Homo sapiens: one gene and its partners. The protein of the gene in region 1 purifies or fractionates together with the protein of each later gene. This does not show direct contact. Each region holds a gene or a part of one and is shown in the gene's direction. Other genes may lie near its edges.

Evidence for each region.
Region 2: the proteins of SLC9A3 (region 1) and RPAP1 purify together in Homo sapiens (affinity purification with mass spectrometry; one large-scale study listed by BioGRID and IntAct). This does not show direct contact.
Region 3: the proteins of SLC9A3 (region 1) and TMEM131L purify together in Homo sapiens (affinity purification with mass spectrometry; one large-scale study listed by BioGRID and IntAct). This does not show direct contact.
Region 4: the proteins of SLC9A3 (region 1) and PYGL purify together in Homo sapiens (affinity purification with mass spectrometry; one large-scale study listed by BioGRID and IntAct). This does not show direct contact.
Region 5: the proteins of SLC9A3 (region 1) and PTPRU purify together in Homo sapiens (affinity purification with mass spectrometry; one large-scale study listed by BioGRID and IntAct). This does not show direct contact.
Region 6: the proteins of SLC9A3 (region 1) and ABCA2 purify together in Homo sapiens (affinity purification with mass spectrometry; one large-scale study listed by BioGRID and IntAct). This does not show direct contact.
Region 7: the proteins of SLC9A3 (region 1) and ESYT3 purify together in Homo sapiens (affinity purification with mass spectrometry; one large-scale study listed by BioGRID and IntAct). This does not show direct contact.

Annotation. Positions count from the first base shown.
Region 1 is NC_000005.10:478,774-483,006, reverse strand, and holds part of SLC9A3 (sodium/hydrogen exchanger 3 isoform 1 precursor), read left to right. Parts: intron 1-256; coding exon 257-459; intron 460-849; coding exon 850-939; intron 940-1,371; coding exon 1,372-1,442; intron 1,443-2,114; exon of another isoform or gene 2,115-2,645; intron 2,646-2,790; exon of another isoform or gene 2,791-3,041; coding exon 3,042-3,171; exon of another isoform or gene 3,172-3,225; intron 3,226-4,233. UniProt on the Homo sapiens protein: Plasma membrane Na(+)/H(+) antiporter. Exchanges intracellular H(+) ions for extracellular Na(+) in 1:1 stoichiometry, playing a key role in salt and fluid absorption and pH homeostasis.
Region 2 is NC_000015.10:41,523,676-41,527,908, reverse strand, and holds part of RPAP1 (RNA polymerase II-associated protein 1), read left to right. Parts: coding exon 1-49; intron 50-303; coding exon 304-486; intron 487-607; coding exon 608-742; intron 743-840; coding exon 841-1,011; intron 1,012-2,760; coding exon 2,761-2,918; intron 2,919-3,654; coding exon 3,655-3,813; intron 3,814-3,936; coding exon 3,937-4,138; intron 4,139-4,233. UniProt on the Homo sapiens protein: Forms an interface between the RNA polymerase II enzyme and chaperone/scaffolding protein, suggesting that it is required to connect RNA polymerase II to regulators of protein complex formation.
Region 3 is NC_000004.12:153,472,587-153,476,819, forward strand, and holds part of TMEM131L (transmembrane protein 131-like isoform 1 precursor), read left to right. Parts: intron 1-1,258; coding exon 1,259-1,302; intron 1,303-4,233.
Region 4 is NC_000014.9:50,912,751-50,916,983, reverse strand, and holds part of PYGL (glycogen phosphorylase, liver form), read left to right. Parts: coding exon 1-22; intron 23-249; coding exon 250-342; intron 343-1,012; coding exon 1,013-1,159; intron 1,160-1,484; coding exon 1,485-1,648; intron 1,649-2,168; coding exon 2,169-2,283; intron 2,284-3,853; coding exon 3,854-3,955; intron 3,956-4,233. UniProt on the Homo sapiens protein: Allosteric enzyme that catalyzes the rate-limiting step in glycogen catabolism, the phosphorolytic cleavage of glycogen to produce glucose-1-phosphate, and plays a central role in maintaining cellular and organismal glucose homeostasis.
Region 5 is NC_000001.11:29,242,713-29,246,945, forward strand, and holds part of PTPRU (receptor-type tyrosine-protein phosphatase U isoform 1 precursor), read left to right. Parts: intron 1-4,233.
Region 6 is NC_000009.12:137,006,415-137,009,399, reverse strand, and holds the end of ABCA2 (ATP-binding cassette sub-family A member 2), read left to right. Parts: coding exon 1-30; intron 31-346; coding exon 347-449; intron 450-531; coding exon 532-669; intron 670-777; coding exon 778-984; intron 985-1,435; coding exon 1,436-1,471; 3' UTR 1,472-2,166; downstream 2,167-2,985. UniProt on the Homo sapiens protein: Probable lipid transporter that modulates cholesterol sequestration in the late endosome/lysosome by regulating the intracellular sphingolipid metabolism, in turn participates in cholesterol homeostasis.
Region 7 is NC_000003.12:138,437,116-138,441,348, forward strand, and holds part of ESYT3 (extended synaptotagmin-3), read left to right. Parts: intron 1-4,233. UniProt on the Homo sapiens protein: Binds glycerophospholipids in a barrel-like domain and may play a role in cellular lipid transport. Tethers the endoplasmic reticulum to the cell membrane and promotes the formation of appositions between the endoplasmic reticulum and the cell membrane.

The DNA of each region.
Region 1 (4,233 bases):
AAGACAGCCCCGCCCCCGCCCAGCCCCATCCCCCAGCACCCGTGTGTGTGATGCACGGAGCGTGGGGGGGAGACGCCAGGCCGCGTGTGGCTCCGGGTGGATGGTGACGAGGGACGTGGCGTGGGGACGCCGTATCTAGGGTGCCGCTGTTCTTCGTCAGCACATGCTTGGCCGCCAAGACGCTGTCCCGGAGGGGCTGGGGTCCCGCGGCTGGGAGGGCGGCCGGGGAGCTGAGTGCCCGCCCCATCATCCGCAGGTGTGGTCCTGCAGACCTGGCTTCTGAACCGCTACCGCATGGTGCAGCTGGAGCCCATTGACCAGGTGGTCCTGTCCTACGGGGGCCTGCGCGGGGCCGTGGCCTTTGCCCTGGTGGTGCTTCTGGATGGAGACAAGGTCAAGGAGAAGAACCTGTTCGTCAGCACCACCATCATCGTAGTGTTCTTCACCGTCATCTTCCAGGTGAGGCCCAGCCCAGCCAGCCCTGGGGTCTCGGCCCCGCCCGCGAGGGGAGCCTGGGCCCGCACTTCAGGACAAGCATTTCCAGGCTCCAGACCCTAATTGGGTTTCATAATTTTAGTAACTAGGAGCCGTTTTGTAGGTTTTCACGTGGCCCCACTGGGGAGGAAGCATAATTGTCCTAAAAATGTTCTTCCCGGGCCTTCGCTGGTGGATGAGGCCCCGGGTGCTGCTTCCTCCTCTGCAAAGCAGGGGCGCGGGTTGCTGGGTGCCCGGAGAGCAGGGAGGGCGCCTGTGGGCCCCGGGGCAGGTGGCTCTGTGTGGTGCACCTGGCCGGGCCAGCGGGATGTGGGGGGCTGCCTGGCACCAGGGTCACGAGACCCTGTCCTCCAGGGCCTGACCATCAAGCCTCTGGTGCAGTGGCTGAAGGTGAAGAGGAGCGAGCACCGGGAACCTCGGCTCAACGAGAAGCTGCACGGGCGCGTAAGTGCGGGGCTGGGGGGCGGGGGGGGGGCACTGCGTGTTCCTCGGGGCTGGGCTGAGAGGGGAGAGGAGGCTGCGTTGGTCTGGGGCTTGGGGGGTGGCGGAGGGCACCGTGTGTTCCTTGGGGCTGGGCCAGGAGGGGAGAGGAGGCCGCCATACGTGCGGGGCTGGGGGGCGGGGGGGGGCACTGCGTGTTCCTCGGGGCTGGGCTGAGAGGGGAGAGGAGGCTGCGTTGGTCTGGGGCTTGGGGGGTGGCGGAGGGCACCGTGTGTTCCTTGGGGCTGGGCCAGGAGGGGAGAGGAGGCTGCGTCCAGGCCAGGGGCGTGGTGAGGGGGGCTGGTGGGTTCCTCGGGGCTGGGCCAGGAGTGGAGGGGCACCTCATGTTCCCCGGTTGGCCGCCCCGAGACGCTCATGTCTTTCTTCCCTTGAAAGGCTTTCGACCACATCCTCTCGGCCATCGAGGACATATCCGGACAGATCGGGCACAATTATCTCAGAGACAAGTAAGTGGCTGGGACGGCCCCGGCGGTGTCGCACAGCCCGGCTTCTGGAAACATCCTCCACTCGGAAGAACCAGAAGCCACATGCATAACAACTGTTTGAGTCCAGGCTTGGTCAGGGCTCCGGTGCCCCATGAGGCCAGGTGCCAGGTGTGCCCCGAGACACGCAGGTGCTGCGGAAAGGAGTTGGCGGCAGCAGTTGGGGCCACCGAGTGAGGGGACAGGAGCTGAATTCTCTGTGCTCCTTCCAGGGAATAGAGATGCCCTCTCATGTGGCCCAATTAATTCCAAATTGTTATGTAGGAATTGAAAATAAGGCAAATAGATTATTTCCTCCACGTCATAAACAGGGTTAGTATCAGTCAACATTTAAAATGATTTTGTCTGGCAGGGCTCAAGCCTGTAATCCCAGCACTTTGGGAGACTGAGGTGGTCAGCTCACTTGAGGTCAGGAGTTTGAGACCAGCCTAGCCAACATGGTGAAACCCCGTCTCTACTAAAAATACAAACATTAGCCAGGGGTGGTGGCGTGGGCCTGTAATCCCAGCTACTCAGGAGGCTAAGGCACAAGAATCGCTTGAACCCGGGAGGTGGAGGCTGCGGTGAGCCGAGATTGCGCCATTACATTCCAGCCTGGTGACAGAGCGAGACTTCGTCCCAAAATAAAAAAAAGAGTTTGTCCATTAAGGTGAAATCACCTATGTTTTATTATAAAAAACATGTGACACTTATAATAAACCCAGTAAGGAGCACATACAATTTGCCCTGGGTTCCCATTTTCTGAGCGATCTGTGTTTGCTTGGGGTGGAGGCACCGGGAGGTGTGGCCACGTGGCTTCATAAAGCTCAGCTGCGGTTCTCCGTGGCCACAGTGACTCTGCTCCGGGTACCCAGTCCCCGACTCCTTGGCCTCCCAGGGGCCATCCCGGGGGTCTCGGAAGGCACAGCCTCGGTTAGCTTTGACTTCTTGGTGTGGCTGAAACTCAGCCTGTACAGGAGAGCTGCCATTGCTGCCGCGGGGCCTGCCCAGGTGTGAGCACACAAGCTCACCCGGGCCCACCCTGTGCCCTGGAGGGCGGCTCTGGCGGCTGCACCCATGTCCAAGTGACAGGCATCACCTCCTTGTGCCCCAGAGTTTCCTCTAAGTCCGGCCAGGCCACCGTCCCTTCTGATCTGGATAACCAGCGAATACTCTAATTCCGTTAGGCTAAAAAAAACCTCACTCTGGTCAGCTTGGCTCCCACAAGTCTAAGGGCTCAGGGTGTCTGTCCGCCCCTGCCCTTCCTCCTGTGCACCTGAAGGTGCCCCCCATGTGGCCAAAGCCCCCTTGCCTGACCAGGCCTGACACCCACCGTGTCCTGAGCCACCCTCTGGAGGAGGCGGCATGCAGTTTCATATGCGTCTAACGGCCTCCATCCAACAGGACAGGCGGGAGAACGGCGGACGGCCTGGGCGTGTGGCAGGGGCTGCTTCCCTCATTTTAAACGCGCCTACAGGGTCACTATAGCAAACAAAATTCAGGAGAGAAGGGGCCGGGCCACGCGTCCGGCGGGCTCTAGGGCGCCTGTCACCTGAGGCTCACACCCAAGGTCTGTCCCTACAGGTGGTCCCACTTCGACAGGAAGTTCCTCAGCAGGGTCCTCATGAGACGGTCGGCCCAGAAGTCTCGAGACCGGATCCTGAATGTCTTCCACGAGCTGAACCTGAAGGATGCCATCAGCTACGTGGCTGAGGTAGCAGAGCCGCTTGCTCTGCCGGGTCGGGGCTGCAGCAGGCTCTGGCACTGGCTGTGGGTGCCATGGGGCAGTGAGGAGAGGCCCCTGCACCCGCGTCCCAAGGCCAGGCCCACCCCAGCAGTTCACGGGAGGCTGATGGGCCTTCTGATGCCCTGGGAATCCCAGGGGCTCTCGTGGGGTAAACTGAGTCACAGAGTCCTGGTGACTGTGGTGCTGGTGGGGGTGAGCGCTGAGGTCAGGTCCTAGGACCCCGAGCTCCCTTGCTTTCCCCAGGGATGGGAGCAGACGGTAAGCAGGCAGGCTGTTACGGGACCTGGTCCCAATACAGCCCTGCCTGCCCCAGCACACGCAGGTGCCCACAGGTGCACACGCACAGGCAGAGGGGCAGCAGCAGGGCCGTCTCCCGCTGTGGGCCGGCCATGGCTCTGAGGCTGCTCCAGCATCTCCCAGTCCACTATGAGCAGGCCTCTCAGCGTCTGCAGAGCCCCTGACTGCTCCAGAGACCAGAGGCCAGGCGCCCCACCCAGCCCCGAGGCCACTGCCGCCCTGGCTCCCGCACCTGCCCACTATGGCAGGTGGGCCTCAGCCTCCCCGGCCTGCCCTGACCTCCCCAGGGGCGCCCTGGCTGCAGGAAGTGTGCAAGGCAGGGCCTGGGGGCACAGCTGCAGGGATTCCGCAGCTCCTCCCTAAGGACAGAGCCCTCCCTAGCGAGCTTTGGTGCCCTCATCCAGCAGCCGGTCAGGGTGGGTGCTCTCGCCGGAGAGAAAGACCTGTCCTGCCAAACCCTGCAGACCCTCACACAGAGGGCCAGTGGGGGCCTGGAAACTCCATTCATTCAGACAGAATGATTCTGCCTCCACTGACGTGCATTCACCCCAGATGTGCCACCCGTGACTGGGGCCATGCCAAGTGGCAAGGCACCTCCTGGCAGAGGGCACGGGGGCCTGGGGCTGTCAGGAGGGCCAGCCAGTGCAGATCAGGAAGGAGGGCTCCTGGACCAGGCTCCACACAAACCCCCAAACCACAGGCCCGGCAAGCGAGAGAAAGCTCAGATACTCT
Region 2 (4,233 bases), on another chromosome or scaffold:
AACCGCCATCCGTGCTCTTCGGGCTCTGCTGGTGGCTCCTGGAGATGAGGTACCACAGGGATAGGAATGGGGCTTGGGCTGGGAGGTGCCAGGGTCCATATTCCTGTTCCTGGGCATGGCCCCATTGCTAAGGCTTTGCGGGCAAGATGTAGAATGGGATGGCAGGCGTCTCCCTCATCTCCTAAAGTCCCTAAAGCCCAGGAGGCTTGCCTTTATGGTTTTTATTGGGGAGCATCCTCTCTACTCCTGGATCCATTTCCTGGCCCCTTCAGCATTGCCCCCCAACTCCCGTTCCTCTGGCAGGAGCTCCTCGACAGCACCTTCTCTTGGTACCATGGAGCTTTGACGTTCCCTCTGATGCCCAGCCAGGAGGACAAGGAGGATGAGGACGAGGATGAAGAATGCCCAGCAGGAAAAGCAAAAAGGAAAAGCCCTGAAGAAGAAAGCCGGCCTCCACCTGACCTGGCCCGACATGATGTCATCAAGGTAAAGGGACAGCTTCTTTCCCATCCCATGGCCCAGGGGACAAGCACATGCTGGAAAGAGGGGCCATCAATGCCCAGGGTCCAGCTGCATTTGTCAGTGGGTTTCTCTCTCCAACTCCCAGGGGCTCCTGGCTACCAGCCTGCTGCCTCGGCTGCGCTACGTGCTGGAGGTGACATACCCAGGACCTGCGGTGGTCCTTGACATCCTGGCTGTGCTCATCCGCCTGGCCCGGCATTCCCTGGAATCAGCCACAAGGGTGAGAAAAAAGGGAGCAGGGAATGGGCAAAAAGCCTAGCTGGGCCTTGTCTTGACCCACAGCCTCCCTTCCTCCCTTTTACCTCCTGTCTCCCATAGGTCCTGGAGTGCCCTCGGCTGATAGAGACTATAGTTCGAGAGTTCTTGCCCACCAGTTGGTCTCCTGTGGGGGCAGGGCCTACCCCTAGTCTATACAAAGTACCCTGTGCTACTGCCATGAAACTACTTCGTGTCCTGGCCTCAGCTGGGAGGAATATTGCTGCCCGGCTGGTGAGCAGGACACAGGGCAAGGGATGGGGGAATGCATGGGACAGGGTTGGGTTGGGAGCTAAACATGGCTCCTGAACTCTGGGTGGCCAGCTCTTGCCATCTTCTTCCTCTCTGATCCAGTTGCTTAGAAATGCAACAGAAATCACCAGGCATGAACCTGTTTACTGGAGCCTGTTTACTGGAGCCTGGTGCATCATATAGGTATACTGTGGTCTCATGATGTAATAGGAGGTCTCCCTGTTCCCTAGACCCAGATCAGAAGGGCTTCATGCACATAGGCATTCATCATCTATAGCCAAGTAGCCCTAGAGAAGGTGCCCAGCAAGCCTTGCTATAAAGAGGGAGGGCTGGGTGTAGTGGCTCAGGCCTGTAATCCCAGCACTTTGGGAGGCCAAGGCAGGAGGATCACTTGGGGCCAAGAGTTCAGGGGCCAGCCTGGACAACATAGCAAGACTCTGTCTCTACAAAAAACAAAAACAAAAAATTAGCTAGATGTGGTAGCACATGACTGTAGTCTCAGCTACTCGGTAGGCTGAGGTAGAAGGATCACTTGAGCTGGGAGGTGGAGGCTGCAGTGGGCTGGTTGCACCAATCACTGCACTACAGCCTAGGCAACAGGGCGAGACCCCGTCTCAAAAATACTACTACTGGCCAGGTGCAGTGGCTCACGCCTGTAATCACAACACTTTGGGAGACCGAGGTGGTGGATCACTTGAGGTCAGGAGTTCGAGACCAGCCTGGCCAATATGGCAAAACCCCACCTCTACTAAAACTACAAAAATTAGCCAGGTATAATAGTGTGCGCCTGTAGTCCCAGCTACTTGGGAGGCTGAGGCAGGAGAATTGCTTGAACCCGGGAGATGGAGGGTGGAGTGAGCCAAGATCACACCACTGCATTCCAGCCTGGGTGGCAGAGCAAGATTCCATCTAAAAACAAATAATAGGGCCGGGCGCGGTGGCTCACACCTGTAATCCCAGCACTTTGGGAGGCCAAGGCAGGTGGATCATGAGGTCAGGAGTTCAAGACCAGCCTGACCAAGATGGTGAAACCCTGTCTCTACTAAAAATACAAAAAATTAGCCAGGCGTGGTGGCATGCGCCTGTAATCCCGGCTACTCCAGAGGCTGAGGCAGAGAATTGCTTAAACCTGGAGGGGCAGAGATTGCAGTGAGCCGAGATTGCGCCACTGCACTCCAGCCTGGGCGACAGAGCGAGACTCCATCTAAAAAAATAATAATAATAAAAATAAAAAAATAATAGGGGCTGGGTGCGGTGGCTCACACCTGTAATCCCAACGTTTTGGAAGGCCGAGGTGGGTGAATCACGAGGTCAGCAGTTCGACACCAGCCTGGCCAACATAATGAAACCCCGTCTCTACTAAAAATACAAAAATTAGTCGGGCATGGTGGCGCATGCCTGTAGTCCCAGCTACTTGGGAGGCTGAGGCAGGAGAGTCTCTTGAACCTGGGAGACAGAAGTTGTGGTGAGCCAAGATCACTCCACTGCACTCCAGCCAGGGCAACAGAGCAAGACTCCATCTCAAAATAATAATAAATAATAAAAAGTAAAATAATAAAATTGAAATTTTAAATAAATAATAAGAAGGAAGGGCAGGGTGGATGAGGTATGACTTTGTGGCACCAGAGGGGCCTGGGTCAGGGTTGAGTTAAGCCACTCTCTGTCCAGCTGAGAGTAGCTGGACTTGAGACTCACAGCTGACCCTGATCCTCAGACTGTGCCCATTTCCAGTTGAGCAGCTTTGATCTCCGGAGCCGCCTGTGCCGCATCATAGCTGAGGCTCCCCAAGAACTGGCCTTGCCCCCAGAGGAAGCTGAGATGCTGAGCACCGAGGCCCTCCGTCTGTGGGCTGTGGCTGCCTCCTATGGCCAGGGCGGTTACCTTTACAGGTGAGGAGAGGCAGGGGGTAGGCTCCCCCTAGACACCTTCAGTTCTGCTCTTCTGGCCAAATCAAACACCTCAGCCTTGCTCAAGGTCCCAAGCTTGGAGGAAGGATAAGAATGAGTGGGAGGGCTTCTGCCAGATGTGAAAAGGCTTAGGAGTCAGGCCCAGCCAGGGAAGAGGGGGATAAACCTGGCTTAACCGTATTCTATGCTCAAAATCATTAGCCGGGCACTGTGGCTCATGCCTGTAATCCCAGCACTTTGGGATGCCAAGGTAGGCGTATCACGAAGTCAGGAGTTCGAGACCATCCTGGCCAATATGGTGAAACCCCGTCTCTATTAAAAATACAAAAATTAGCCAGGCGTGGTGGCACACACCTGTAATCCCAACTACTCGGCAGGCTGAGGCAGGAGAACCGGTTTAACCTGGGAGGCAGAGGTTGCAGTGAGCCGAGATCACTCCATCACTCCACTGCACTCCAGCCTGGGCAACAGAGAATGTCTCAAAAAAAAAAAAAAAAAAGCATTGGTATCTGTGAAATCACATTTAAATTCCCTGTTGGGGGCAGCCTTGAAGGACAACATCCTTTCCATTCTTTAGGGCTGAGCCTTCCAAGAGTGCCCCACTCTTCCTCCTCATCCTCCTTTATCAAACTGCAGATCCCTGGGTCAGGGCCATGACCTGTGTCTCATGTCTCCACTTGCTTTCATACAGTGAAAATCAGTCCCTGTTCTTCCCTAGGGAGCTCTACCCAGTGCTGATGCGGGCCTTGCAGGTGGTGCCGCGGGAGCTCAGCACCCACCCACCTCAACCCCTGTCCATGCAGCGGATAGCCTCACTGCTCACTCTCCTCACCCAGCTAACCCTGGCAGCCGGCAGTACCCCTGCTGAAACCATCAGGTAGTTTATAGCCAGGACCCACAGGACAGGTGGAGGGCTCCTCCACAGGGCTGGGGTGGCTGGAGTGTAAAGGGGCGTGAGGCAGCCAGATCCTCACTGTGGCACCCTTTGGCACTTTTGTAGTGATTCTGCTGAGGCCAGCCTCTCGGCCACCCCTTCCTTAGTCACTTGGACACAGGTGTCTGGGCTCCAGCCTCTTGTTGAGCCGTGTCTAAGGCAGACCTTGAAGTTGCTGTCCAGACCTGAGATGTGGAGAGCCGTGGGCCCAGTGCCCGTTGCCTGCCTGTTGTTCCTGGGAGCCTACTACCAGGCCTGGAGCCAGCAAGTGAGTGCCTCCTGCCGGCTGTCCACCAGGCCCCCGCACCCTGCCTTCAGCTACATTCCACCCGTTGCTCCCTCTCTGTGTCCATCTCTCCACTC
Region 3 (4,233 bases), on another chromosome or scaffold:
AAGCAGAGAGATAGACAGTAAACAAGACAGAGAATAAATTTATTTAGTCTGTTCGAAGGGCATACATGTTGTGTGGTGGCAATGTGGGGTGGTGATGTGAGTTGCGGTTTTAAGAGGTCAAAGTGTACCACTCTGAAAGGGCAATATTTGAGCCAATCTTTGAAAGTGGTGAGAGAGAACAGCCAGTGCAAAGGCCCTGAGGCACTTCCCAAGAGGCAGTGGGGGAATTACATGCTTTTGTCCCTGCCCTTTGTGGTTGGCAAGATCAGACTGGTAATACCCTGGGACCACAGTCAAGTGCTGAAATATAGGAACTGAGAGAAGAGGCACCCTGCTTTGGAGAGGTCAGCTAAGGCTTAGGGACAAGGGAGGCCTTAGAGATCTGCAGCAGCAAGTGTGTGCCTGGGGCCTAGCCCAGAGCCTCGCCTGGTAGACAGTTAAGTTCAGCATTTTCCCTCGGACATTTTAAATTGGAGCCCAGGTGCTTGCCGCAATGTGGTTGTAGGGGTAGGGCTGGGTGTGTCAGGGCCTGTGTGGGACAGTGCTGTATGCTGTTGAAGAGCTTGGTGTGCATCTGACCAGTTGGAGGGAGCCATAGTAGGTTCTTGAGCAGGGACTGAAGTGATGACATTGAGTGCTGGGTCCTTACTGTGTGATAAGGGTGATAAGGAGTGAATGATATGAGGAGACTGGTCTTTGCTGCACAGAGTGCGATGGTGCACCGGATGGTTGCAGGCAGCAGTCTGCAGGCAGAGAAGAAAGCTGCGTTTGTCTTCTAATACAGCCGGGGCTACTGATGGTGTGGGCTGCTGTGTTGGAAGAAAGGACAGGTAGGAACTGGGTTTCCCGTGAGTGGGTAGGTCTTTCTGGTAGGAGGTGAAGGGAGGAGAGCAGTGCAAGATGACTATAAGATTTGCCCAGGGGTGGCCGGGCACAGTGGCTCACGCCTGTAATCCCAGCACTTTGGGAGGCCGAGGCGGGTGGATCACAAGGTCAGGAGTTTGAGAACAGCCTGGCCAACACAGTGAAACCCTGTTTCTACTAAAAATACAAAAATTAGCCAGGTGTGGTGGCATGTGCCTATAGTCCCAGCTACTTGGGAGGCTGAGGCAGGAGAATTGCTTGAACCCAGGAGGCGGAGGTTGCAGTGAGCCGAGACCCTGCCATTGTACTCCAGCCTGGGTGACAGAGCGAGACTCTGTCTCAAAAACAAACGAACAAACAGAAACAACGGTTAACACATGTTCTTTTTCAATAGGGTGATTCTGAAGAGGGTCTGGAGGAGCCTTCTCAAGAACAGAGGTAAGGAAAAAATGGGGGTGGAAACCTGCATGCTGAATGTCCCTGCCCACTTTGGGTGCTCTCTGAAGTCTCAGTATATGTCCATGTTTATGTATTTAGTAGTATCTGTAATACACCTTTCTCTTTGGCATTTGTCGTATCTATACCTTCTAATACATTAATACGATTTTGTTTTAAAATAAGGTTGTTTAGAAAGCTGTTAGAAATAGCCCCTCCTTCGCCACTCACCAATTTCACTTTTTCCATGATGTGCTTGTGCCCTCCCTCTTGTTTATAAACATCTATTGAGTGCCAGGCACCGTGCTGGGTGCTGAACATGAAACACAAACAAGACCTCTGTTTCGTGTAGTGGGCAAGTAAGACTTTACTGTAAGTAAAATAATTATGCTTATGACAAGAGCTATCAAGAATTAGTTTCCTGTAGTAGAGAATAATGAGGTGGATGGGCTCCTTTTGGGAGGTGACATTCCAGCTGAAGCCTGGAGGAAACAGGAGCAGCCACACAGCAGCGGGAACAGTGCTTTGGTCAGAGGGAATGGAGGTGCAAAGGCCCTAAGGCTGGAAGCCCTGCCGGCAATCCAGGAACTTGGAGAAGGCCAGTGTGGTTTGTAGGATGGTGAGATAAGGTATGTAGTCCTTTAGAAGTCGCAGTAAGGAATTTGAGTTTTGTTTTTAAGTGTGGTGTGAATTGTTAAAGAATTTTAACCAGGGGACTGGAATACAGTGGTATGATCCTGGTTCACTGCAACCTCCGCCTCCTGGGTTCAAGCAATTCTCCTGCCTCAGCCTCTCAAGTAGCTGGGATTACAGGCGTGTGTCAACATGCCTGGCTAATTTTTGTATTTTTAGTAGAGACAGGGTTTCTCCATGCTAGCCAGGCTGGTCTCAAACTCCTGACCTCAAGTGATCCGCCCGACTTCGCCTCCCATAGTGCTGGGATTACAGACATGAGCCACCGCACTCGGTCCTGTGAATTCCATTTTTAAGAGAATACCATGGGGCAGTCTTGGTCACTTGTCAAACTGGGTCCCTTAGAGGTACACGAAGACACTCTAAGTGGTGTATAAGTGGGAGGATAACTTGCAAGGACTACGCTTCCAGACCCCCAGGGTGTAGGTATCTCCTAAAGCTGATCTGAGTTGTAAGTTACCATTTTCCACCTCTGCTTTCACAATCTCTTTTCTCCACGTTACAAAAGAAAGCTGTATCTTCCACCCAGCCCCAATCCTGCTGTTGGCTTCATCTTGGGCAAAGAGGCAATTTGAAATATTGGTGTTTGTTAGGAAAAAGTGATCCACTCTGATTGGATGACAAATTCTTTAGTAACTTTGGTGGTTTTCAGATCGTTCCTTTTAGTAAAATTGAAGGAGGACCCAATGAATTTGACAACTGATAGATCATTCAAGTTACTTTTAATGATGGCTCACTGTGTGATTTTTAGATGAAACACTGAGGTAGTTTAGAGAATATACGGATAGTGCTGTAATAAAGCTGTTTCAGTACTTACAAGCTTTTTCAGTACTTACATTTAAAAAAGTTAAAAAGGAAAGGATTAAGTTGATAAAAAACCTGTCTCATTCTAGTAGTGGGTAATGTTCACATCAACCAGTTGGGGGGAAAATAGCTCTGTTCATCTCATTAAAGGATGCATTTTCAATAAGATTTTACTTTCTGTGTTTAATTACCTATCAAAATTTGTAAAACTTGTTGGTTTGATCAATTGTATGCAGTCGGCCCTCTGTATCTGTGACTTCTGCATTCGTGGATTCAACAAACTGTGGATCGAAAATACAGAAAAAAAAAGTATCTGTACTGAATATGTACAGACTTTTTCTTGTCATTATTCCTTAATACAGTATAAAAACTATTTACATAGCATTCACATTGTATTAGGTATTATTAGTAACCTAGAGATGATTTAAAGTATACAGGAGGATGTGCATAGGTTATATGCAAATACTATATACCATTTTATATCAGGGACTTGAGCATCTTCAGAATTTGATATTCTTGAGACGTCCTGGAACCAATCTCTCAGGGATTCGACTGTACTAATACAAATTGTATTGATAACTTTTTTTGTTTTTGGAAACAGTGTCTCACTCTGTTGCCCAGGCTGGAGTGCAGTGGTGTGATCTCGGCCTACTGCAACCTCCCCCTCCTGGGTTCAAGTGATTCTCCTGCCTCAGCTTCCTGAGTAGCTGGGATGGCAGGTGCACACAATCACGCCCGGCTAATTTTTGTATTTTTAGTAGAGATGAGGTTTCACCATGTTGGCCAGGCTGGTCTTGAACTCCTAACCTCAGGTTATCCGCCGGCCTCAGCCTCTCAGAGTGCTGGTATTACAGGCATGAGCCACCACGCCTGGCCTGAATTGATAACTTAATTCAGAAGGAAAAAAATTAATATTTAGACCTATGGTCATAGGAAAAATGTTTTAAAAACCTGAAATTTCAATTTATATTTATAGTCTTGTAGCAGAAGGCTTTGAACATAACTATGTATTCAGTTAAAATTCCTTGGGTAGGGCCAGGCGCAGTGGCTGACGCCTGTAATCACAGCACTTTGGGAAGCTGAGGCAGGCGGATCACGAGGTCAGGTGATCAAGACCATCCTGGATAACACAGTGAAACCCCCTCTCTACTAAATACACAAAAAATTAGCCAGGTGTGGTGGTGGGCGCCTGTAGTCCCAGCTACTCGGGAGGCTGAGGCAGGAGAATGGCATGAACCCGGGAGGCGGAGCTTGCAGTGAGCTGAGATCGCACCACTGCACTCCAGCCTGGGAGACAGATTCCATCTCAAAAAAAACAAAAACAAAAACAAAACAAAACCAAAAATTCCTTGGGTGACGTGGAATAGAAATGAGTTCATGGAGGAAAAGGAACAACATAAAATATCCAGCCATGAAGTTTATTTTTGTATTTAAAAA
Region 4 (4,233 bases), on another chromosome or scaffold:
GTTTGATGCCTTCCCGGATCAGGCAAGTATTTAGTCTGTGGATGCAGTTAGGGTCCACTGAGGGATTGACTGGGATTTCCTATCAGATTAATTCCTCTCTCTCAGTGCTAACAACGTTGAGCAGGAATAGTGTGCATCAAGTCTTTCATAGAAGGTGGGCATATCAGTGCTTTCTCCAGATGTGTTAGGACAAAGAAGCCAGACCCTGAGCCATCCGTTGCCTTCATGTTGATGTCTTTCCCCACCCAGGTGGCCATCCAGCTGAATGACACTCACCCTGCACTCGCGATCCCTGAGCTGATGAGGATTTTTGTGGATATTGAAAAACTGCCCTGGTCCAAGGTCTGGATAGTTTGGCTTCTTTTTCCTTTAATTAACCAGAATGGCTGCAGTTGAAAGACTGCCAAAAACTCCCTTTTTAGTTTTTCAAAGTAAGTTATTGTTGCTAACTTTCAACAGTTAAAGGTATATTTTCCCTGACGCTGACATTTTCCATCCTTAGAGTTTTATAGGGAGTAAGACTATAAAATAAATGAGCACATTCCTAATGGGACACAAATCAATAGCTATATTAAGGCTTATATTGTGTTTACCATTTTTGTGTTGAAAAAGATTAAAAATTAAATTATCTAACCTCAGAAGACAGCTAATTGAGTGTCCCCATAGCTTTAGAAGTCAGCATTTTACATACTTTGTACTTGCTGAGAGCACTATTTACGTTTTTATCCCTCAATCTGTGTATTTAATAAGTGAAAGACACATAAGGATAGTAGATAGATTGATCAGAATGCTGTCTTAAGTTTCACCAGTAGCTTTACAAATGGCTTCCCCCTCACACCCAGAACATGTTTCTATTATCTGGACTATTCAGGAACTTAGTGGAATTGAGTGCTCTGACTATGCACACTTGGAATGGTCCTGTTGCAGACAGGGCAGGGTTGAAGAAGGGTTTGGCCCGTGCAGTGGGGTGCCCACCTTCAGGGCAAGCAGCTGACTCCTTCCTTTCCCCCAGGCATGGGAGCTCACCCAGAAGACCTTCGCCTACACCAACCACACAGTGCTCCCGGAAGCCCTGGAGCGCTGGCCCGTGGACCTGGTGGAGAAGCTGCTCCCTCGACATTTGGAAATCATTTATGAGATAAATCAGAAGCATTTAGATGTAAGTCATTTTGAGAGATTTTCTCTGTTCATGAGCATAAGATCTTAAGGTGTTACAGATGGCTACAGTGTTCCCTCTTACCAAACATCTTTCAATCATTGATACAGCAAAAGTACTCAAGTCCGAACGGGGCTCCAACAAAGGCAGCTTTTTGAAAGTGCTGAAATGGAGGGATGGCACCTCCATAGAGCTAACTCAACCCCTCCCTGTGGTAGTGAAGTTTATATTGAGTACACCAAAGATTTTGCTTAAGACATGAACAGCGTTATCCCAATGTTGCATTAAACCTGAGTGACCAGCAAGGGCTTTCTCTTCCTTTGGCTAGAGAATTGTGGCCTTGTTTCCTAAAGATGTGGACCGTCTGAGAAGGATGTCTCTGATAGAAGAGGAAGGAAGCAAAAGGATCAACATGGCCCATCTCTGCATTGTCGGTTCCCATGCTGTGAATGGCGTGGCTAAAATCCACTCAGACATCGTGAAGACTAAAGTGTGAGCCTCCATTACTCTGGCAGTGGGTCTGACACTGATCCATTAATGGAATGATGCTACTAAATGCAGGGTTGCACTTAGGGATGAGGAAAGGCCTTGTTCAAATGTTTAAAAGTATTTTCTTCTATACAAAAAACTCTTGCCTAAAAAAAAAAAAGAAAAGAAAAGGAAAGAAAAGAATGCTTTCCTCTCAGAGCCATCTTAATTCTAGACATAGGAGCCAAAACAAACAAACAAACAAAATACCAAAAACTATTCTACTGAAAGTGTAGTATATATGTCAGTGTGAAGAAGTCAGATGGAAGTGACTAGATTTGGAATTTTTCTGGTAATTCTTTTGAGTTGCAAATGAATTTCTATTTAAATGACAGCCATAGCTACTGTCAGCCTGTCCCTCCACCTTTATTTAACCTTTCTAAGCCTGCACTTGGCTTCTTGAATATAACTCCGAACTTTGTCCAGTGTGCAGGACCCTTTGCCGTTTCAGCCAAATTCAGTGATGTGTCTCCTCCATCTCCAGATTCAAGGACTTCAGTGAGCTAGAACCTGACAAGTTTCAGAATAAAACCAATGGGATCACTCCAAGGCGCTGGCTCCTACTCTGCAACCCAGGACTTGCAGAGCTCATAGCAGAGGTAACTGGGAAGTGCTGAGAGGAAAGGAGGCCTGACTCGAATGCAAGAGGCATATGACTATACTTGTAACTTATAAATCCAGTCTGCAGCAGGGCTGGCTTCCTCAGCATGTGGTTTGTGCAGTCACACAGGACTCCATGCTGGGTTTAATTCTCTGCTGTAGTCATCTTGAAATTATTTATTATTATTATTATTATTATTATTGAGACAGAGTTTCACTCTATCACCCAGGCTGGAGTACAGTGGTGCAATCTCTGCTGACTGCAACCTCCACCTCCTGGGTTCAAGCAATTCTCCTGCCTCAGCCTCCCGAGTAGCAGGGATTACAGGCACACATCACAATGCCCAGCTAATTTTTGTATTTTTAGTAGAGACAGGGTTTTACCATGTTGGCCAGGCTGATCTTGAACTCCTGACCTCAGGTTATCTGCTCCTCCTTGGCCTCCCAAAGTGCTGGGAATACAGGCATGAGCCATCACACATAGCCGTCATCTTGAAATTCTTAATTTTTGAACAAAAGGTCCTGCAAATTATGTAGCTAGTTGCAGCTAACAGTATTCATAGGACACTCACATAGAAGATGGTTTTCTCTAGTAAAAGAGGATAATAAAGCTCATATAAATAACTAACAGAACCTGGGTTCCTGGTCACTCTTATAAGTAGATTTCCTGTTTTTAACACTTTAATACCAGTGAAGCTGGCCGGGTGTGATGGCTCATGCATGTAATCCAGTGCTTTGAGAAGCCTAGGCAGGAGACTCACTTGAGGCCAGGAGTTTGAAACTAGCCTGGGCAACATGAGACCCACCCCCACCACCACCACCCGTCTCTACAAAAATAAAAAGATTAGCCAGGTGTTGTGGCATGCACCTGTAATCCTAGCTACTCAGAGGCTGAGGCAAGAGGATTGCTTGAGCCCAGGAGGTCAAGGCTGCAGTGAGCTATGATCACGACATTGCTTTACAGCCTGGGTGACAGGGTGAGATCCTGTCGCCAAAAAAATTAAATAAAAATAAAAATAATTTTTAGGCCGGGTGCAGTGGCTCACACGTGTAATCCCAGCACTTTGGGAGGCCGAGGAGGGCAGATCACAAGGTCAGGAGATCGAGACCATTCTGGCTAACACAGTGAAACCCCGTCTCTACTAAAAATACAAAAAAAAATTAGCCAGGCGTGGTGGCAGGCGCCTGTAGCCCCAGCTACTGGGGAGGCTGAGGCAGGAGAATGGCATGAACCCAGGAGGCGGAGCTTGCAGTGAGCCGAGATCGTGCCACTGTACTCCAGCCTGGGCGACAGAGCGAGACTCCATCTCAAAAAAAATGAATAAATAAATAAAAATAAATAAATAAAAATAATTTTTAAAAACTGCTGAAACTACATTTAAGATACTAGCAAAAGTGTTCTTCTCACATAGACTTTATAGACTCTTCTTTGAGTCAAACTATCCCATGTTCTGTGTGATACGTGAACTACACTGTGGTAGGTGACAGAGAGAAATACTGACAGAAACTGCCCATTTGGACTTGATTACCATCCCCAAATTGAAGTCATCTTTTCCTTTGAATTGAAAGAAAATTGGAGAAGACTATGTGAAAGACCTGAGCCAGCTGACGAAGCTCCACAGCTTCCTGGGTGATGATGTCTTCCTCCGGGAACTCGCCAAGGTGAAGCAGGTGAGCCTTCCAGGTGTGGGTCCCCTCCTGGGCACTCACTGTGAGAGTTTATCCTGTAGTTTTTGTTTATTTTTTGAGACAGAGTCTCGCTCTGTTGCCCAGGCTGGAGTGCAGTGGCACGATCTCGGCTCACTGCAACCTCCGCCTCCCAGGTTCAAGCGATTATCCCGCCTCAGCCTCCCAAGCAGCTGGGATGACAGGCGCCCGCCACCACGCCCGGCTAATTTTTGTATTTTTAGTAGAGACAGGGTTACACTATGTTGGCTAGGCTGGTCTCG
Region 5 (4,233 bases), on another chromosome or scaffold:
CTTCAGTGAGTCCTGGGCATCTCTGGGAGGGGAATTGGTCTGGATGGACCATGACTCAGTGGCTCTTGACAAAAGGTTTTGTTCAATCCAGGCCCCTTCTCTGCAGCCTTATTAGATCTTGCCTGGACTATTGCAGTAGCCTGGTAGCCTTCTTGGCCTCTACTCTGCCTGCCATCACGCTCTCGGTTTCTTTTTTTTTTTTTGAGATGGAGTCTCACTCTGTCACCCAGGCTGGAGTGCAGGGGCACCATCTTGGCTCACTGCAACCTCTGCCTCCTGGGTTCAAGCAATTCTTCAGCCTCAGCCTCCCAAGTAGCTGGGACTACAGGCGCGTGCCACCACGCTCGGCTAATTTTTTGTATTTTTAATAAAGACGGGGTTTCACTGTGTTAGCCAGGATGGTCTCCATCTCCTGACCTCATGACCTGCCTGACTCGGCCTCCCAAAGTACTGGGATTAGAGGCATGAGCCCCCGGGCCCGGCCCAGGCTTTTGGTTTCTAATGCTTCCACCACCCTGTGGCTGGAATAAGCTTCTAAGGCAGACATAGGATGCTGCCACTCCTTTGTCCCAAGCTGAAGGCTCCCCAGAACTCAGGGGACAAAACCCAAACCCTAGCATAGCACATGAGGCCCTGCATGACCAGCCCTTTCTTTCTGAAGCAGCTTCACATGATGCCTTTCTTCCCTGATCCCACTCCTGCCTATCCGCTGTCTGCTCCAAATCACCAGGCAAATTGCTGATCCAGGAGCCTGCCATGCCAGTTCACACCTCTCTACCTTTGCACACACTGTGCCCCTCCCTACTTCTCACCTCGTGGTGGGGGTGGGGGATCTACCTACTTGTTCAGCCTTCACAGTTCAGCTCCATTGTCACTGATGCAGCGAAGCCTTCCCAGCCCTCTCCCGGTGCAGTTGGTGAAATTTCTCCCATAGTGGACGTCTGACAATGTGCTGCGGTTTTCCATCTCCTTTTTCCACTAGGCTGGGAGCCCCCAGGGGCTGAGCTGTGTCTTTGTCATCTGTGGTCCCCAGGGCCTATACGTGGGAGATGCCCACTAAGTGGCTGCATCTCGATGCCTCTGGGTGCACAGGGAAGGCTTGGAGGGGTGAATGCAGGAGCTGGGGTTCTGCAGCACAGTCATGGGTGGGCTGGCTATGCCTCCTCCTCTGGCTCTGGGTTGGGGGCTGCCATTTCCTGCAGAATGACTGTGGGAGGACCCCTGAGGGGGACAGCTCAGAAGATGCTGCTTCCAGATGACGCAGGAGGTCTTGGGCAGATTCCCAAGATGCAAACCACAAGACCTTGTGATGACTCAGAAGGGACAAGGAGAAAGGGGGCTTGGAGGGCCGCTGAGGCTTGGGAGTTTGAGGGCAGAAGCTGGGGAGAAAGATTGAGATGGGGCTGTTAGGAAGGGGAGATGCTGAGGATATTTGACAGGGCAAGATTAAAGCTAGGGGTGGGGTGACAGCTCAGCCCCCGGGGGCTCCCAGACTAGTGGAAAAAGGAGACGGAAAACCGCAGCACACTGTCAGATGTCCACTGTGGTGGGTGACAGCTGAGGCCTGGGGGACCACTGGCGGATAGAAGATAGCTGGTGGGAAAGATATACCTGGGGGATGGGACAGCTGACAGTGAAGGGACAGGCGGTATTGGGGGAACAACTGAGGGTTGGGGGACAGGTGGATGATAGAACAAGGAGATGTGGGTGATAAGATAAGAGGTGGAGATAAGAGGTGACAACTGGGAGCTATCAGAAACCTAGTGGATAGGACAGGTGAGTCTCAGCTGAGAGTGGGAAATACATTGCTTAGAATGTGTATGTATGTGTGTTTACAGGAGCGTGCATGTGGACTTGTGGCTGGGCATGCCTGTCAATATGTGTTTGTCTAGCGTGTGGTGGTTAAGAGCATGGGTTCAGGGCCCAGACCATCTGGGTTCTAATCCTAAGCCCACCACTTCTAGCTGTGTGATACTTTGGTAAGTTACTGACCTCTCTGGGCCCTTAGAGTTCTCATTTGTGGAATGGGGATAATAATAGGACACACTGCATGCGTTTGTCATGAGGATATGTTTTATGGTTATGATTATGTAGGTTAGAACAGGTCCTGCACATAGTAAGCACTGTGTAAGTGATCACTGTTATGATGTGTGTATTTGCATGCGTGCGGTCATCCTGTGTGCCCAGAAAAGTTTGTTCTTGGTTTCTGATGAAGTCCAGGCCTGGGAGGGAGTAATAGTGGTGGGGACGGGGGTGGTGGTTGGGGAGTGCCTAGCCAGGTTGATTGAGTCTGGCTCTTCTCTGACATCCTAACCTCTTGTTCATCCTACTTCCTGCTCACCCTGTCCCAGGGCCTTATCCAATAATAGGTCTTTCTCTCTATCTCTCCTCTGTCCTGCCCTGGGCTGGGGGCCAGGGGCTGTACTTTAATTGTCTGAGAGCTTTACCAGCAGAATTTGAATTCATTGTTTTCCTGCCAGCATGCTGGGATTCTGCTCAGTTATAATACCTGGACAATGTGCTCGATTCTAGATGGCCTATCCTGTGGGTGGCAGTGGCTTCAGCCTTTGCCCTTGGAGAGTCACTGGGGTGGAAGATGTTGGAGGGAGGGAGACAAGCCAGATGAGATTTCGGCCCCCAACTTGTGGGGTGAGCCAGCGTGGCCGGGCAGAGCTGTAGGTAGAGAGTTTTCCAGGGATCTGAGCTCCCCTCTCCTCCAGTGCATCACAGGGAGGCATCATGACCCTCCCAGCAACACTGTTGCAGCGTGCCAGGCTCTGGACTGCTCTGGATGTGCACTGTCTGGGATTCCTGGGTCCAGCCTCCTTGCACAGCCCTGTGTCTCAGCCCTCTACTTCACTGGGATTGCTGCATTGCATTGAGGGTGTGCGTTCTCCTGAGTTTCTGCATGCTCTGCCTCTGCATTGTCCCATTGGACCGTGCCTCCATCCTGCCATGATCCTGCCATGGTCCTGCCATGTGTGTGTCTTTGCTGCTCTCTTGTATACTGTGTCACTCTGCTGGATGTCAGTGTTGCATTGGGAAGGTGAATTCTCCTGGGTTTCTGGGCGGAGCTGCTCACACTGCACCACTGTCTGAGATCAACACATGGTTTTCTGTGGCCACATTGCATGTTTGTGTCATAGAGCATTTATATTCTGCACCCCATTGCCTCACCAGGCAGTCTACATTGCATTGGGCACATGGACTCTTTTGGGGTTTGGGCATAGCTCCTCGCATTGCAGCACTGCACCGTGCCAACAGATGGCATGCTACCACAACATTGCATCTTGGCATCACACAGCATCTCTGTACTGCACTGCACTATTGCATGGACGTCAGTATTGCATCAGGACTGTGAACTTTTCCTGAGTTTCTGGGCATGGCCCCTCTGCATTCCACAGTTGCATTGTACCAACAGTGCACTTTGCCCCATATAGCACTTCTGTGCATGTGCACTGCTTTGCTGCACTGGATATGTGCCTCATGGCCCAGCCCTTGCACTGCACCACTGCTGCTGAAACGCTGCCCCTATGGTGTCCTGGCCTTTCACGCTCCTACCACCATGGTATCTGTAGGCTGGCGTCCTTTTCCAGGTTTTTGTTGTCAGCCCTACGTGAACAACATCTTTGCATTGAGTGTCCTCACTGCCCCACGTTGCACATGACTCAGGGAGTCTATATCTATAGTACAGCTTGGGACCACTTTCTTGGGCTTCAGGACTGGCTTAGGTTTGCAAAGGCAGCACCACTGCACAGTATCTGACATTGCATTCGTGCACTGCACAGGATTACTGCCCAGGGCCTCTACCCTGCAACGAACCTGTTCACTGTTGGGTTGTGTGCACTCTACCGGATTGCGGGACCCAGAGCCCTTGCGTTGAATCCACTGGTTCCACACAGCATCTATTTTTTTTTTTTTAAGATGGAATCTCACTCTGTTGGCCAGGCTGGAGTGCAATGGAGCGGTCTGGGCTCACTGCCACCTCCGCCCCCTGGGTTCAAGTGATTCTCCTGCCTCCGCCTCCTGAGTAGCTGGGATTACAGGCATGTGCCACCAAACCCAGCTAATTTTTGTATTTTTACTGGAGACGAGGTTTCACCATGTTGGCCAGGCTGGTCTCAAACCTCTGACCTCAAATGATCCACCTGCCTCGGCCTCTCAAAGTGCTGGGATTACGGGCATGAGCTACTGCGCCCAGCTCCACACAGCATCTTAATTGTACTCCATTTT
Region 6 (2,985 bases), on another chromosome or scaffold:
CCTGGGCAGCATCCAGCACCTGAAGAACCGGTGAGCCGGGGCAGGGCCAGGGGTGGGCTGGGGCGGGCCCGGGGGGGGCGGCCAGGCAGCGGGGCCAGGAGTGGGGGTGGCTGCAGGGCTGTGAGGGCTGTGGGGCCAGGGGGGCTGGGGGCACTGGGGCTGGGGGGACTGGGGCAGTGGGGCCAGGGGAGGAGCCTGGAGGGCTGTGGGGGCTGTGGGGTTGGGGGGCTGTGGGAGGCTATGGGGCTTCCTGGGGTGCCTGTGGGGGCTGTAGGGCTGGGAGGCTGGGGGGCTGGGGCTCTGGCTGGGCGGCGCAGGGCTCCGGGCCACCGGCCTGTCCCACCAGGTTTGGAGATGGCTACATGATCACGGTGCGGACCAAGAGCAGCCAGAGTGTGAAGGACGTGGTGCGGTTCTTCAACCGCAACTTCCCGGAAGCCATGCTCAAGGTGCGCCGTCCCGGGCAGGGTTGTGGAGGGGGCGCTACGGGGTGGGGGGGCGCTGCCAGGCCTCTGACCTCCCCCCCTGCAGGAGCGGCACCACACAAAGGTGCAGTACCAGCTCAAGTCGGAGCACATCTCGCTGGCCCAGGTGTTCAGCAAGATGGAGCAGGTGTCTGGCGTGCTGGGCATCGAGGACTACTCGGTCAGCCAGACCACACTGGACAATGTGAGCGCCCCAAGGGCACTGCGCACCACACCTGCCCCTCCCCTCACCCGCCCTGCCCCTCCTCACCCCAGACCAGCCCCCTCCCCACACGCCTGCGCCACCCACCAGGTGTTCGTGAACTTTGCCAAGAAGCAGAGTGACAACCTGGAGCAGCAGGAGACGGAGCCGCCATCCGCACTGCAGTCCCCTCTCGGCTGCTTGCTCAGCCTGCTCCGGCCCCGGTCTGCCCCCACGGAGCTCCGGGCACTTGTGGCAGACGAGCCCGAGGACCTGGACACGGAGGACGAGGGCCTCATCAGCTTCGAGGAGGAGCGGGTGAGCAGGCTGCTCTCATGGCTGTCCAGGGCTCTGCCCACTGGACCCAGGCTGCCTGGTGGCTCCAGCCGCGGGTGGGGTCGGGGGAGAACTGGCCCCAGGATGCTTGCTGTCCAGAGGTCAAGGGGGCAGAGTGGGCGAGGGACACTTGCAGATAGGCCTGGAGAGACGTAACTGCATGGTCCAGACTTGCTAGAGTCTTTGAGGGGCACAGAGCAAGGGTGGGGCAGAGGGGACCAGAGCCGGGGAACAGGGGACCGATGTAGACTCAGTGGCCCCCAGACTCGGCAGACGGAGGCCCGGGAGAGCCCAGACACAGAGGGAGCTCGTGGGGAGACCCTGCGTCCAGGCCCAGCCTGCAGGAGGGCCGGGGCGGGCCAGCACAAGTGTCCTCAGCCCCAGCAGGGGGTGGCACAGGATGCCCCATAAGCCTGACCTCCCCTGTGCACAGGCCCAGCTGTCCTTCAACACGGACACGCTCTGCTGACCACCCAGAGCTGGGCCAGGGAGGACACGCTCCACTGACCACCCAGAGCTGGGCCAGGGACTCAACAATGGGGACAGAAGTCCCCCAGTGCCTGCCAGGGCCTGGAGTGGAGGTTCAGGACCAAGGGGCTTCTGGTCCTCCAGCCCCTGTACTCGGCCATGCCCTGTGGTCACTGCGGTTGCCGCCCCTAATTGTGCCAAAGGCTGACCCGGCCCGGGCTGCGTACACCCTTGCCCTGCTTTGCCTTAAAGCCTCGGGGTCTGCCCGGCCCCTCGCCCCTGCCTGGCACTGCTCACCGCCCAAGGCGACGCCGGCTGGACCAGGCACTGCTGGCCTTTCTCCTGCCCGGCCTCGGAACCAGCTTTTCTCTCTTACGATGAAGGCTGATGCCGAGAGCGGGCTGTGGGCGGAGCTGGGTCAGTCCCGTATTTATTTTGCTTTGAGAAGAGGCTCCTCTGGCCCTGCTCTCCTGCAGGGAGGTGGCTGTCCTGCGGGAAGCCATCAGCTTGGGCCAGCTGGCAGGTGGCAGGAATGGAGAAGCTGACCCTGCTGGCCAGGCAAGGGGCCAGACCCCCCCCAACCCCCAGCTGCCATCGCTCTCCCACCCAGCTTGGCCCCCTGCCCGCCCACCTCCCTGGGAGCCGGGCCTGTACATAGCGCACAGATGTTTGTTTTAAATAAATAAACAAAATGTCTGCGGGTCTGCGTGTGTGGGTTGGGAAGGGTGGGGAGGATGGGCGCATCAGGTGGGTTAGCGCTCCAGAAGGCCCTGCCCCTCAGGCACAGGTGCTGGCAGGGGGTGGCTGGGTCGGTCTGGAGGAGGGAAACTGAGGCAGGGTGGTTCACCATGGTTCACTGTCCCCCTCATCCCACCCTCAGGGGTTGCTCCCGGCCCCCTTCCCCTTAGCCTTCATCTTCCCGTCCACCTGCCCTCTCTAAGCCTCCTTCACCCCTTGCTGCCCACGTGGGGCCTGCAGCAGCCTGGGCTAGGCTGTCTCCGTGTCATGGAAGGGACAGCGAGGGCTTCCAGGAAGAGGCGACCTCCAGGAGGAGACCGAAGTCTGTGAAGATTCCTTAAGGGAAGGGCATCCCAGCCAGAGGGCAGGGCACAGGCCAAGGCCCCAGGGAGGCAGGACCTGGAAGCTTTGAGGCTCATCAGCGGTGGAGCCTGGCACACTGTGGGCAGGAGATGGGGGAGGGGCATGAATGGCCCCCAGAGCTCACGCCCCGTGATCTGGGCCAAGTTCAGACTCTTGCCTTAGGCCGTTTCAAGGCTCCTCAGGAGGGTAGAGGGTGGACTCACTGAGGGCTGGTGCCACATGGGGGACAACAGGGGAGGGGCCCATGGGCTTGAGGGCACTGGGTGGGCTGGGCCAACACATCCACTTGGGTTCCTATGAGGCACTCACTGTGACCACCTGAGAGGCAGTGGGATGACCATGCTGGAGTCCCTGAGAGGCTGGGTCACTGGGGTGAAGCTGTCCTGGGCCCTGGGGGCGGTTCACTCTGGAAGA
Region 7 (4,233 bases), on another chromosome or scaffold:
CTGGGTAGAGGGACACTCAGAGGAAGGTGATGCTCTCTGTCCTACCAAGAAGGCAGTCTCGGGTGGGGGACAGATGCATAACAGGTCATTGCCATTGAGGAGAATTGGAGCCAGGAGTCGGAACAGGGTCTAGTCAGGTAGAAGGCCTGGTATGAAGGACACCCTACCAGGTTTCCATATCATATTGTCCCCGAATCACAGCCCCCTTTCTCCTTGACAAGGACCTGGGAAAGGCTGGCTTCAGCCTGCATTCTGCAGACTCGCCTGGCTGGCTTGTCTGGCCAGGTTGGAGGACCAGGGCCTGGATAACCTGTTGGACTGGGCCACTGGTGCGGCACAGGGCATTCTGGCCGAGGGAGGTGGTGAGCACAGCATGGAGGTGTGACATAGCCACTGCATGAGGGGGCGCTGTGTGCTGGGCCTGGCTGAAGTGTGTGGTAGGGGTTGATGTGTGACAGGGTCAAGTTGAGGCAGACTTGATGGAGGCTGGCCTTGTTCTGAAGGCTGGAAGGAGCCTTGGATGCTTCTGAAAGGCCCTTCAGAAAGCAGCATGGTGGGACGAGGAAGGCTGGAGGAGACAGGCCAGTTGGGAAGGTGATTTCAGCCAAGATGGTAGTAATGAGGGAGGAGAGTGGGAGATGCGTGGGAGTGGGACTTTAGATGCGTGGTGGCCTCTAGAGTAGGGGTGCAGGGGGATCCAGGGGTCTTCAGGGTGCTTTCTGGTTTAGGGAGCTGTTGACCATTATTGCGATTGGGATTCCAGGATGAGAAACAGGTCTGGGGAGGTTGGTTGCCTGTATGAACACCTGTGAAGTGCATACAAACAGATGCAGGTGTGGGCTTTTCACCCGCCTCGTGAAGGTTTCCACGCCCAGTGATGATATGGAAAACCTGGAGTCTACCTGGTTGAATATTCTTCTCTCTGCCTCTTTAGGAACACAAACTGTGAAGGCAAAGAGAGACAGGGCTCTGGGCGTGGTGGGGGCAGCACGGCCCCTTGCACAAGATTTTGGGCATGGATGAATGGATCTCTTCATCATCACATGCTGACCTTTTAGCATGCCTTCCCTCTGGAGAACTGATTTCTCTGCGTGAAAGAGAGGATGATGGCTTATGACCTCCTTTGGTATCAAGAAATATTTCTGTAAGTTAACAGATGGCAAATCAGTAGTTGGGGGACTGAAGAAAAGTTGAGCAGCTCAAGGGCACCACACTCAGACCTGCATTGCATGTCGTGTGAGTTGGCCCTGTACTCTAGCCCCCAGTGGGGAGGGATGGATATCCGGCCACCTGCTGCTTGTCAAGCTGTATGCTGCTTAGATGGGGCACCTTTTTCTAATTTGCACCAACTCCCTGTGAAGGAGTGGAGGCCAAGGCCTGGCTGAGCTGAGGCGGGGATGCCATCCTTCCCCACTGCCATCCAAGGCAGCCATCGTCAGCCAGTCCTCAGTCATGCACGACTTTCCTGCCTGGTCTTAGACTCCTTCTCAACATTTTGCTCCAAGATGCTACCTCCAGGTGATCATAGAAATTTGCTTTCCCTGACTGAACCTGTTTCCCCACCTGTAAAAGGAGGTTGTATTGGATGGTCTTTCAGAGTCATTTTGGCCCTGATGTCTGATTTCTAGTCAAACTTCAGACAATCCTGCTTCTCCTCCAGGTCCCCAGCCATGGGAGATATAGCTGGAAGGAAGAATTCTCCTTACTAGAAGCCTTGAAGGAAGAACCTGTGGGTCCCCTTTGTCTTGTGAATGTGGCCTGACGACATGGGGAAGAAGGCAGGGTGGCCCCCGCAGCTCACCCTTGAACAGAGGGTTCAAGAGGCTGCATGTTTACATGCGGATGCTCCTCTCACACAGTGTTTATGTGTACTTTTGAAGGAATTAAGAGCCGCCTCAGCTGTCCTTGTCGGGTAGGGACTGTGTATAGCACAGTGACAAGCACGGAGCCCTTGATATTACTCATTTAATTGTAGGCCTCGGCAAGCCACAAAAGCTTTGTTGCCACACATGGTCGTGGTGAGTCGACTGTTTGAAAAGCTGCTTGCACAGAGCCAGACACAAGCGAATGCCCAGTGGGGGCTGTCCCTTTATGTTCCTCTGTTTCCCGGGCTTCCTAACTACCTTTTCCTAATATGAAATGAATGCCCAAGTGTCCCAGTGGTAAGCTCGTCTTTCCAGCATCTGGATGACTGTCAAGGGGTGGAGCGAGTGGAAGGGACGCGCAGAGCACTTCTGTGGAACCCCCTGCACCCTGGCTTTTCCTGGAGCCTGCTCCTGTGGGTTCTCGGAGTCCCGGCTGTGCTGCCCGCGCTAGAGCTGCCTTCTGATCTTCAGAGCCCATCCTTCGTGCTCTGGGCTCCTAAGACCCTTCTTGGGGTAACCTTTGCTGCTTTGCTTCCCTGCCCACCTCCCTTGGTAGGGGCCCCTGCGTGGAGCTCTGCAGCCTTCACTCCTGGATTTGTGCACAGATCAGCCCTTCACTGACCCGTGAATTTCCAGTTACTCATTCAGCCATTGATCAGTGCTTCAACTGGATGATTGGGTTGCTTATCAGATATTGATTTGCCCCTGCCATGACTGGGCCCCTGTGAGGAGGGAAGTTCAAAATCCTCACATTGCTCCAGGTTGGGGGAATGAGAGCCGGTAGTAGGAAAATAGCCTGAGGCAGTGTAGAGAAGAGAAAGAGCTGTGAGAAAACGTGGCATTTTGTCTATCTGTGGTTTCTAGCCAGGCTGGCTCTCCTTTCAGCTGGTAGCCATCAGTTACATCAGTTGGCAGCTTTGTGAGGGGCAGTTAACTCGTGTGTGTCTGCTGGTGAGGTGGTCGTGATGTGAAGTAGTGGAAGTCATTGGAGTCATTCATGGAGGGATCTTGGGAAGCCCCTTGTCCTCTCTGGGCCTCTGATTTCTCTGAAAATCATGACATTTTAGGAGATGTTCTATAGAGTCTTCATAGCTGTAGGGTCTGCCATCATTAACCAGTCCCGAGCCTGCTTTTCTCTGGTGACACATACCCCACAGGACCCCACTCGCTGCCTTTCATGCCTGTCCCCATCTAACTGGGTGCGCACTGGGGCTGCCGGCAGAAGCAAGCACCAGGGGAAAAAGGTGAGCCGTTCACACAAAGCGATGGGCATTCTGAGGCGCAGAGCAGTGGTCCCTGGGATTGCTCCCTCCAAGCCTCCCTGCCAGCCACTCAGGCAGACAGCCAAGGGCTGAGTGCTTTGCTTACCTAGTGCTGAGAGCTTGACATTCTTTCTGTGGTTGGAGCAGCAGTCGTTCCAGGACCCAGGCTCTCAGGGTCTGTCCTGAGATACTTCAGTTAATTAGAGGAAGTAAATGCAGTGACAGCTCTGAGCTAGCCTGGGCACTCTCAGATTAGATCACAAAGCCTGATGCTTGGAGCCAGGGCCGTGGAACCTGATTTTAAACATCAGGACTGGTTGGGTGCTGCTTGGAATTAGGGAGACTTCTTACCCTTGAGGTCCCTGCAGCCCTGTGAAGTTATTCAAATGGCTTGGAGTCAGGCCTGTCCTCGGGAAGGAAGAGGCAGATAAATTTTTAGTCATGCCTTTGGGGTTTCTGCCCCATGTCTTAATGATGGTTCATGGACTTATCATGTCCTGGGCCAGGATTGAGCAATATGAGTGACAGAGTATGGGCCCTCTTTCCTCCAAGCCCAACAGAGGGATCTTAGGCATACATGTGTTCATTCCTATACTCACTCAGCAAGCATTTATCGAGAACTTGCAGTGTGTCAGGCACAGAGCTGCAGGCGGGGCAGCATGAGTACACATGGCCCCTGCCCTTGAGGAACCCATGAGCTAGATGGAGATTCAGACCTGCAAGGGCAGCCTCTTCTGATAGAGCATGATCAGTTCTCTGAGGTGGCTCCAAGTCTGAGGCTCTGAGAAAGCATGGGTGAGGGGCTCTATCCTTGGCTGGAAGTGGCCCAGGAAGCCTTCTTGGAGGAAGAGGCACTGTGGTATTGCTGGCTGTGGTAGGGAGTTGGGGACTCGGCCCACAGTCTTTCACAGGTTAGGTCAGTTGAGCTCATTATTGCATCTTGGGGTGAGCAGATTCTGGGACAGCAATGTATAATACCTGCGCTCACATGAGACTGCTCACTGCTTCATTTACAAGGGGCTGAATCTTTCTGGGCCAGGAGTGTCCAGGCAACCTTTTCTCAGCCAGGGGCCTGAGGCCCTGAGTAACTGAGAGGTCACATGGTG